Linked DNA regions of Homo sapiens: region 1 is linked to region 2. Evidence: fine-mapped expression QTL. A gene starts in region 2. The other region holds a variant in brackets. All regions are shown on one strand. Distances are between the middles of the regions. Region 1 overlaps SLC27A1 (solute carrier family 27 member 1). Region 2 holds the start of SLC27A1 (solute carrier family 27 member 1).

What was found. PIP is the estimated chance that this variant, and not a neighbour inherited with it, causes the effect. A credible set is the group of variants that fine-mapping cannot tell apart.
Region 1: its variant is the best candidate, but not a certain one, in a credible set for the expression of SLC27A1 in whole blood (TOPMed, PIP 0.81).

What each region holds. Positions count from the first base shown.
Region 1 is chr19:17,503,089-17,508,449 of GRCh38, reverse strand. SLC27A1 (solute carrier family 27 member 1) reads right to left here. Exons shown (of 12, transcript NM_198580.3): 12 at 2,282-3,995. The coding sequence ends at 3,838. The region is part of intron 1 of PGLS-DT (PGLS divergent transcript); the gene reads left to right. Among named protein-coding and RNA genes, the nearest start is that of PGLS, 5.9 kb to the left of the region's middle. RefSeq lists an enhancer at 1-960. The variant A/G (reference allele first, on the strand shown) is at 3,344.
Region 2 is chr19:17,467,717-17,473,077 of GRCh38, reverse strand. SLC27A1 (solute carrier family 27 member 1) reads right to left here and starts at 2,554. Exons shown (of 12, transcript NM_198580.3): 1 at 2,371-2,554. The coding sequence starts at 2,537. RefSeq lists enhancers at 1,437-1,938, 3,360-3,489 and a silencer at 2,480-2,609.

The DNA of each region.
Region 1 (5,361 bases), 35 kb before region 2:
CAGCCTGGGCGACAGAGCAAGACTCCGTCTCAAAAAAACCAAAAAGCAAAAAACAAAACAAAAAAATTCACTTGCTCATCTGCACACGAGGGTCACCCCCTCAGTGTCCTCTCCCAGCAAATGCTCTGTCACCTCCTGTCCCCTGAGGTAGAGACAACAAACAAGATGCCAACATTATGACACGCGAGGGGGACAGCAGAGGTGAGAGTCAGTTGAGAGTACAGTAGTCCCTGCTTATTCAAAGTTTCTCTTTCTGAGGTTTCCACAGTTCAAACATATTAAATGGAGAATTCCAGAAATAAGCAATTCATAAGTTTCAAATTGCGTGCTGTTCTGAGGAGCATGATGAAATCTCGGACTGCCTTGCTCCATCCCTCTCTGTCCCGCCCAGGGTCATGAATCACCCCTTTGTCCAGCAGATCCATGCTGGAGACACCACTCCCCCCATGCCCACTCATTTGTCACTTAGTAGCCTCCTGGTTATGAGATTGAAAAACCAGTATAAACTGGGCACGGTGACTCACACCTGTAATCCCAGCACTTTGGGAGGCCAAGGCAGGAGGATGGCTTCAGCCCAGGAGTTCAAGACCAGCCTGGGCAATACAGTGGGACCTCATCTCTGCAAACAAATCAAAAAATTAGCTGGGCGTGATGGTGCATATCTGTAGTCTCAGCCACGCAGGAGGCTGATGGAGGATTGCTTGTGTGTGGGAGGTCAAGGCTGCAGTGAGCTATGATCATGCCACTGTACTCTGGCCTGGGCAACAGAATAAGACTTTGTCTTAAAAATAAATAAATTAGGCCACGTGCGGTGGCTCACGCCTGTAATCCCAGCACTTTGGGAGGCCGAGGAGGGCGGATCATGAGGTCAGGAGATTGAGACCATCCTGGCTAACACGGTGAAACCCCATCTCTACTAAAAATACAAAAAAATTAGCCGGGCGTGGTGGCAGGCACCTGTAGTCCCAGCTACTCGGGAGGCTGAGGCAGGAAAATGGCGTGAACCTGGGAGGCAGAGCTTGCAGTGAGCCGAGATCGTGCCACTGCACTCCAGCCTGGGAGACAGCAGGACTCCATCTCAAAAATAAATAAATAATTAAATTAAATTAAAATTAGAAAGGGAGGAAAGGATGAAGGAAAGGAAGGGAGGGAGGGAGGGAGGAAGGGAAAGAAAAAGAAGGAAAGGAAAGAAAGGAAGAAAGAAAAGAAACAAAACATATTTAGGGCTCAGTATTATGGTCAGTTTCAGGCATCCATTTGGGGTCTTGGAACATATCCCCCAGCGATTGGGAGGAATACTGTATAGACTCCTGAGCTTGGAGTCCTGGGTTCGAATCCCAGCTCAGACGGCCACCCCAGCAGGCCTAGCGACTTTCACCCAGAGCTCTCACACCAGCCGGCCTGTACATGGAAGAGGACACTGCCAGGGCAGCCACAGGTGCCAGGACATACCGTGATCTGAGCCATCCTGCAACACCTGCAGGAACCCACAGGCAGGCTGGCCATCCCTCCCCTGCAACCACAAGGTCAACGAGGGCCTGTGAGGCCCAGACACTGCAGGGAGGTGCCTCCCCCTCGGCAGGCCAGCGAGAGGGCCAACCCGAGTGCCCCTGCCCCAAGGTCCCTTTGGTCTTGCAGATGGGGCCACATGGTACAGGGTCCCTTCTTTTTCTTTTCTTTTTTTTTTTTTTTTGAGACAAAGTCTCGCTCTGTCACCCAGGATGGAGTGCAGTGGCACCATCTCGGCTCACTGCAACCTCCACCTCCCGGCGCAAGCAATTCTCCTGCCCCAGCCTCTGGGGTAGCTGGGATTACAGGTGCGCGCACCACCATGCCTGGCTACTTTTTGTATTCCCTCCCTCCCTCCCTCTCCTCTCCTCTCTCGCTCTTTCCCTCCCTCCCTCCCCCTTTCTCTCTTTCTTTCTATTTTGAACCAGAGTCTCGCTCTGCCACCCAGGCTGGAGTGCACTGCAACCTCTGCCTCCTAGGTTCCAGCAATTCTCCTGCCTGAGCCTCCCGAGTAGCTGGAATTAAAGGTGTGAGCCACCATGCCCAGCTAATTATTTTGTTTGTATTTTTAGTAGAGACAGGGTTTCACCATGTTGGCCAGGCTGGTCTCGAACTCCTGGGCTCAAGTGATTCACCCACCTCAGCCTCCCAAAGTGCTGGGATTACAGGCATGAGCCACTATGCCCGGCTGGCCGAGTCCTGCCTTCTGAAACTCAGCAAGGGTTCTGTGCCACATAGGGACACTCAATGAATGGGCTCCCAGCAGGCACCAGACGGTCTTCAGGTTTATTTCTTAAATCAATTAGGAAATAAAACCACAGTGCCCAGGAAAGTTCACATGAGACGCCACGGTGTCTCTTGCCATGGCCCCACCACTCCAGGGGCCAGGGGGTGCTGCTGGAGGGAGGACAGACGGACAGGCGGCCTGGGTGGCCGGCCCCAGAAAGGCTGGCGTGGATGTTCGAGATGAGCCACCAGCGAAGCCAGTAGGGATGTCTGGGCCGTCCTGGTGGGATTGTCTGGGACATCGCCACCAACACGGTGTCAGAGCCATCAGTGGGGACATCGGAGGGGCCACCACCAGGTGGGGTATATTCAACAGGCTAGAACCCCTGAGGCTTGAGAGGCCAACCCCCGGCAGGAGACCTCCCCTGACCCCTCTGCTGCCTCTCCTGTGGGACCCTCCAGTAGACACACCAGATGAGGACACCCAGGAGGCCTCCTCCCAGGACAGGAGGCAGCTGGCTGGGCAGCCACGCAGTGCAGGGTTCAGGGCCCTCCAGCAGGAGCTCCATGGAGATGGCTAAATGGGGACATCAAGGCAGGGGCTGACAGTGGTGACATCCAAGTGGTCACAGTCAATTCCGGAAGCTTTCAGGGCATCAGGAGGGGAAGGTGGGGCTGGGGAAATGTGACAGGAACGGGGAAGTGCAAAAGGCAATTGGCCTAGCCTGGGAGATTTTCCAGTTGGCCTGGGGGACCCCCGGCTCCTCCATTCAGCAGGGAGGGCGGAGGGCCTGCTTGGAAGTCACATGGAGCTGCAGCATCTGGAACCCAACAGCCACAGGAGGCCTGGATCGGGGCTCCGTAAGGCACAGCCGAGAGGGAGGTGGGGAGGCCCCAGTCCGAGTCCAGGGCCCAGGGGAGATGATTCCTGCAGTCCCCAAAAGCAGCTGGACCCTACACAAGATGCAGCTCCCAGGACACGCGTGTTCCACTCTCGGCAGGAGAGGAGAGGAAAAAGGAAAGGCCGGGCCAGAGGCTCACGCCTATAATCCCAGCACTCTGGGAGGCCGAGGCCAGCGGATCACCTGAGGTCAGGAGTTCAAGACCA[A/G]CCTGACCAACATGGTGAAACCCCGTCTCTACTAAAAATATAAAAATTAGCTGGACGTGGTGGCGGGTGCCTGTAATCCCAGCTACTCAGGAGGCTGAGGTGGGAGGATCACTTGAACCCCAGGAGGCAGAGGTTGCAGTGAGCCGAGATCCCACCACTGCACTCTAGCCCGGGCAGCAGAGTGAGACTCTATCTTAAAAAAAAAAGAAAGAAAGAAAGAAAAGAAAAAGAGGGAAGAGTTAAGGCCAGACAGGGACAGGGATGGAAGGAGACAGAGGCTGAAAAGCAGGGAGAGGAGGCAGACACAGGGGCACCAAGGCAGCAGAGAGGCACGGGTTCCTCTGAGGTTCCAGTTTCTCAGTCCAGGATGGGCCGTGCCAGGTACAGCTCGGCCAGGTGGGTGTGTACTAGGCGGCCACCCCTGGGCAGCGCTGTCTGGCTCAAGCTGGCCTCTCCCACCAGGCCCAGAGTTTGTGGCCAGTAGAGGAACAGCTTCAGAGGGCGAAGGCGCCCGAGCAGATGCGAGTGTAGACTGCCTCATTTAAGGGCAGGTAGTGGCCCTGCTTCAGGTCCAGGAAGAAGAGCCGGTCTGAGGTCTGGCGTGGGTCAAAGCCCTCTCGCTGCAGCCTCGTCTTCTGGATCTTGAAGGTGCCTATAGTGGGGATGGGGGGCAGATAAGGGCTGAGCAGGTGGCTTCTGGGAGGCCTCAACTCAATATCCTCTCCTGCACCTCTGGACCTTCCCACAGGCTGTCCCCTGGGCAGGAATGTTCTTCCCCATTTTGCCTGCCTGATTCCCCCTTGTCTGTCAGATCCTGGCTTCATGCCCCCTCCTCCAGTGAGGCCTCCCTAACCACTCCTCACCAGGGCAAGAAAATGTACACCCTGCCTGGTCATGTGTCCATTCCCCACATGACAGGCAGGGCTGTGTCTGTTACACAGTGAATAAGAGTTTAGCAACTTACATCCTGTGGGCCAAATTTGGCCCTCCACCTGTTTTTGTAAATAAAGTTTTACTGGGGCCGGGCACAATAATGGCTCATGCCTATAATCTCAGTACTTTGGGACGCCAAGGCAGGAGGGTCGCTTGAGCCCAGGAGTTTAAGACCAGCCTGGGCAACATAGTGAGACTCTGTCTCTGCAAAAACCCTTTTTTTTTTTTTTTTTTTTTTTTTTGAGACATAGTCTTGCTTTGTCACCCAGGCTGGAGTGCAGTGGTGTGATCTCGGCTCACTGCAACCTCCACCTCCTGGATTCAAGTGATTCTCCTGCCTCAGCCTCCCAAGTAGCTGGGATTATAGGCGTGCACCACCACACGTGGCTAATTTTTAAAATTTTGGTAGAGACAGGGTTTCACTATGTTGGCCAGGCTGGTCTCGAACTCCTGACCTCAAGTGATCTGCCCGCCTCGGCCTCTCAAAATGCTGGGATTACAGGCGTGAGCCACCGCACCCGGCCAACAATTTTTTTTTTTTTTTAAATTAGCTGGGTGTCATGGCACGTGCGTGTAGTTCCGGCTACTTGGGAGGCTGAGGTGGGAGAATCACTTGAGCCCAGGAGGAGAAGACTGCAGTAAACTATGATTGCATTATTGCATTCCAGCCTGGACAACAGCAAGATCTTGTCTCAAAAAATAAATAAAAATTTAGAAATAAAGTTTTATTGGCACACAGCCATGCTCATTCATTTGCACATTGTCTATGGCTGCTTTTGCACAAGAATAGCAGTGTTGAATAGCAATCGAGGCTGTATGGCCTGCAAAGCCGAAAATATTAACTATCTGGTCCTTTAAGAAAAAGTTTGCCTGAGCCCAGGACTGCGAGACCAGCCTGGGCAACACAGTGAGACCCTGATATATTTTGGCTGTGTCCCCACCCAAATCTCATCTTGAATTGTAGCTCCCATACTTCCCACGTGTTGTGGGAGGGACCCGGTGGGAGGTAGTTGAATCATGGGGGTGGGTCTTTCCCGTGCTGTTCTCATGATAGTGAAGGGGTCTCACGAGATTTGATGGCTTTA
Region 2 (5,361 bases):
ACCTGTCATCCCAGCCACTTGGGAGGCTGAGGTAGGAGGATCGCTTAAAGCCAGGAGTTCCAGACCAGACTGGGCAATATAGCGAGACCTCATCTCTATAAAAAACATTCTATTAACTATCCAGGAGCGGAGGCAGGCGTTTGTAGTCCCAGCTAGTCAGGAGGCTGAGGTGGGAGGATTGCTTGAGCCCAGGAGATGGAGGCTGGTCCACCCTGGGCAACAGAGAAGACACCCTGTCTCAAAAAAAAGGGAGCCAGGCATGGTGGCTCATGCCTGTAATCCCAGCACTTTAGGAGGCCAAGGCAGGCGGACTACGTGATGTCAGGAGTTTGAGACCAGCCTGGTTAATACGGTGAAACCCCATCTCTACTAAAATTACAAAAATTAGCTGGGCATGGTGGCACGTGCCTGTAGTCCCAGCTACTTGGGAGGCTGACGCAGGAGAATCACTTGAACCTGGGAGGCAGAGGTTGCAGTGAGCCAAGATCGCACCACTGCACTCCAGCCTGGGCGACGGAGTGAGACTCTGCCTCAAACAAACAAACAAATGAGCAATAGACAAAAGGTAAGTGCAGCTAGGCGACAAAAGGGAAGTAAGCGGAGGCTGGGACATGGTCAGGGACCTCGTGCGCAATGCTCAGGAGTATGGCCTCAATTCTAATTCTATTTTTTTTTTTTTTTTTGAGACGGAGTCTCACTCTGTCGCCCAAGCTGGACTGCAGTGGCATGATCTCCGCTCACTGCAAGCTCCGCCTCCGGGGTTCACACCATTCTCCTGCCTCAGCCTCCCGAGTAGCTGGGACTACAGGCGTCCACCACCACGCCTGGCTAATTTTTTTGTATTTTTATTAGAAACGGGGTTTCACCGTGTTAGCCAGGATGGTTTTGATCTCCTGACCTCGTGATCTGCCTGCCTCGGCCTCCCAAAGTGCTGGGATTACAGGCGTGAGCCACCGCTCCCGGCCAGTATGGCGTCAATTCTAAGGGCAACAAGGAGCTATGGGAGGGTGCTGAGCAGGAAAATTCAGCAAAGGTTCCCAGAGGGAGAGCCTGCCCTGGCTAAAAGGGGTCCAGTATGTTCTGGGCAGCTTGAGCTTGACACTGCAAGTCTTTCTGAAGACCAGGTGAACATATGGATGGGGGGAGTGGCAGGTGGGCAGGGAACAGATGGTAGGACCTTGAGTGCCCAGCTAGGGGCTGAGTCTTCCTTCTGCCAAGGATGGGCTGGCCATGGAAGGTGTCTGAGCAGAGGGCACAGTCAGATTTCCACATCAGAACAACCAAGGAGCCGGGGGCAGGGGGCCATGGCATGCAGAAGGGGTGAGTTTTAGAAAGTTCAGAACCAGTCAACTTACGGTGGGATCTTTCCCATCTCCACACCCTCTGTGCCCTCCTTACAATGGGTTCAGTCCCTCTTGCTACTCCATCTTACAAGGAGCTGTGAAGGTGTTGAGCCCTGCCCCGCTAGCCGGCGCTCACCTGCTCCCACGTGGTGCTGTTCCTGAGGTCTGCTCTGATAGAAGCCCCCAGCAATGCCTGTTTCATCCCAGAAGGACCCCCAACGGCTCGTTTGAGCAAGTCCCTCAGAGACACCGCAAAAACCCTCCAAGGATCCTTGCACAGGACACCAGAATCTGCCCCCCTAGCATGAATCCAGTGTCCCAGTCTCCAGAAGAGACCCCCCAAACAAGTCCTGGAATACACAGCAGCCTCCCGACACACTCCGAACAACTCCCAAACCCAAAGTCCCACACAGACCCCAAAATCTCAAACAGTGCCCCAGCTGTAAACGATCCCGAGGAAACTCACACCTTCAGAAACCCGGGAAGTCCTTTATAGAGCAGCTCGCTCATCCCTCAGAGAAAGCCCTAGATAGACCCAAAGTGTCTTGGCAACCCCCCAGAGACTATCTATTGGGTCGTCCCTGTGAGCCCCGGTGACCTACTGGAGAGCCCCCTGAAGTCTCTCACAGTTATCACGGCTCCAAAAAGACCCCCACACCGCCACGGATTTCCAGTCAGCCCCAGCTCCCTGGAATTTCCACCAGTTGCCCAAAGACCCCCAAATTGCCCCCCAAATCCCCTGAGATCATCTCCTAAGCAGCCTGCAACGCCCGAAGCACCTTAGAGGCTACTCATCTTCCTCGAGAAATCCTTAAAGTGTCCCCTGTAGCCCCCTCAGAGACCCCCAACTGGTCACCCTCTCAGGCCCCGCCCCCGCCCAGCCCTCGGCCCAGCCCCGCCCCCAACCTACAAAGCACCCTCAGCTCTCCGGACCCTCCAAGCCGTCCCCGCAACCCAGCCCTGCACCGTGCGCCCCCAGAGCCCTCAGCCCCGCCCCCAGCCCTGGACGGATCCCGGCAACACTCACAAGAGGTCTCGCCTCGCGGTCTTGCAGACGATGCGCAGGAAGCGCCAGCCGCCGCTGCCCACGTACACGCCGAGCGCCGCTGCCGCGCTCCAGGTCCACGGCAGCCCCAGCAGCCACAACAGCGCCAGCGAGACCACCGAGGCCGCGCCCGCACCCGGAGCCCGCATCCTGGGGAAGCAGAGAGAGCTGAGGCCGCGGGCCGCTCCAGCCCCGCCCCACGACCCGCTCCGCCCCACGACCGCCCCCGCCTCTACAGCGAGCCGCGCCCCCAGGCCTCGGCTCTGCGCCCCCCGCGAGTCCGGGAACGCGCTCCGAGTCAGACTCCGCCCCCAGGCCTGGGATTGGTCAACTCCTCAGGCCAGGCATCGCCCCTTTCCAGGCTTTTACACCCGCCCGCTAACTAGGAACCAGACCAGGGCCCCAGGCCTGGGATTGGCCAGGTCCTGGCCAGGCTCCGCCCCCGGACCCTGGGTCCGCTCTATTCCATATTTTTGAGCCCATCCTTCCCTGCCAATCTTACAACAGTCCCCGCCCCCAGAGCCAGCATGTCCACCTTGTCGGTCACTGTCAGGCCTCGCCACATGCCTTCATCTAGCCTCTATCCTCGATCCCCGAATTACCCTTCACGTCCTGTCCCCTTTCCTCCTGGTCCTGCCTCTACCCCGTGGCCTTTTCACCACTCACTGGGCCCCGCCCTTAGGTTATGCTTCTAGCCCAGCCCACAGGTACAAGCCCTCTCCCCGAGTCCCGCCCCTCTCAGCCAGGCCCCACCCCCTAGGTTAGACATATGCCTCCCCACCCCCCCGCAATAAGCACACGCCCCACCCTCCCGAAACTAGAGCCCTCCCCAATCCGTTCAAGCCCCACCCCAGTTCCGGGCCTAGCCCAAGTTCCCAGGCTCAGGTTCTATCCTGGCCACGGGCCCCGCCCTCAGGCTTTGGCTCGGTCGCCACCTCCTGGGTTTCACTCCGGCCCCCCTAGGACCTAGGCCCCGCCCCTCTTCCCTCCTGTCTACTTCGAAGCCCCTCAGCCCGCAGAGCCGAGGCCGGCCGTCTTCCAGAAGCCACGACCATAGAGAGGCAACCGGACCGGAGAGGCGACGGCCAAAGAGACATGGGTGCTAGAACGGCCCGCCAGGGTCGTCCGCTGTCTCCATGACAACCAAGCCTTGCCCCACCCCCTCTCCTTTTAGGAAACACACGTGTCCTGCAGCCTTGGGGCGTGGCTCGCAAGATATCAGGACCCGAGCCCTAGTTGGCGTGCAGGATCTCTACCCCGGGGGACCAAAAATATCCCAGTCCACACCCACGGCCCGCGCGGGCTGTATTCTTGCTCCAGCTTGTCCTAAATCCAAGCCCCAAAGCCTCTTTCGGTCTTAAAAACACGTTCCAGGGCCCGGGGGAGTGCTCAACTCACACCATTGGGGCCTCAGAAGTCTCTAACTGTAAACACCGCCGCGGTCTTAACACGTGTGATTCAAGGACACAGCTAATTCTTAATCCATGTCCCGAAGCCTTGTCGGTTAAGTCTCACCGTCACACCCCAGGATCCCAGGGAGGACAAAATCCACACGCCAGGTCCCCATCCTTCCTAGAAGCACCTACAGGCCCTTTACTTGCACCCCGGGGTCCTAGATGCTCCCCCAGGCGCTGCCAGCGCTGGCCTGGGGGCACGCACAACCCCATTCTCTGGCTGACCTGAAGCTGCAAGCCGTGCCTTCAGTCTCCCAGAAGCTCAGGCAGGAGGCAGGCAGGGACTAGGAGGCTGAGGCCGGGGACCTTTCTGTTTCTGCAGACTCCTGGACCCTTCTTGGGTGCGCTGTGCCTACTGTGCGGGCTTCTGCTTTGGGGTCCTTCCCTTCCAGCTCCCCCTCCTCTGCCCCACTGCCGACTCCACCACTGCTTGTTTTCTGCTCTCCTTGGCCGACCTTTCCAGCGTTCTCCTTAGGAGGCGGCCCGGGCCTGATTCCAATGCATTTGGAGGACAGGGCTGGGCAGGCACTCACCCCCTACGCTGCCATTGGTCCCTGCGGGCAGCAGGGTGGCTGGAATGAGGGATCACGAGGAAGATCCGGAGGACAGGCCCAGAGCCAGCCACTGGCCTGCTGCTTTCTGGGCCTGGAAGAGTCAGCAATGACCAGTAACTGCAGTTGCACTCTTACCTAGCCAGGTAGCACCGCTGTGATCACCCCATTTGACAGGTAAAGAAACTGAGGGCAGGCTGGGCGTGGTGACTCACGCCTGTAATCCCAGCATTTTGGGAGGCCGAGTTGGGTGGATCACTTGAGGCCAGAAGTTCGAAACCAGCCTGACCAACATGACGAAACCCCGTCTCTACTAAAAATACAAAAATTAGTCAGGCATGGTGGAGCACACCTGTAATCCCAGCTACTCCGGAGGCTGAGGGAGCAGAATCACTTGAACCCGGAAGGCAGAGGATCCAGTGAGCCGAGATCGCGTCACTATACTCCAGCCTGGGTGACAAAGCAAGACCCTGTCTTAAAAAAAAAAAAATAGAAGAGAGAAAGAAAGAAAGAAAAGAAAGAAACAAAGAAAGAAGGAAGAAAGAAACTGAGGACTGGAGCTGTCATGCTTACTTGGAATTGAGATTCATTCATTCATAAATGTCAGCTGAGTGTTCCCTGTCCCTCCTCCCCTCCTCTCCTCCTTTCCCTCCTCCTTCCTCTCTTCTTACCCCTCCTCCTCCTTTTTCTTCTCTAAACTTCCCCTCCACCTTTCTTGTGCTCTGATTCTCTCTTCTCTTACCCCACTTCCTCCTTCTCTCTTTCTCCCTCCTTCTCTCCTTTCTGCCCTTTTCTCTCCTCCTCCCTGCCCTCCTCCTCTCTTCCCCCCTTCCTTTTTTCCTATCCTCCCTTTTCCCCCTCCATCTTACCAGTTTGTTTGTTTGTTTTGAGATGGAATCTTACTCTGTCACACAGGCTGGAGTGCAATGTCTCAATCTTGGCTCACTGCAACCTCCGCCTCCTGGGTC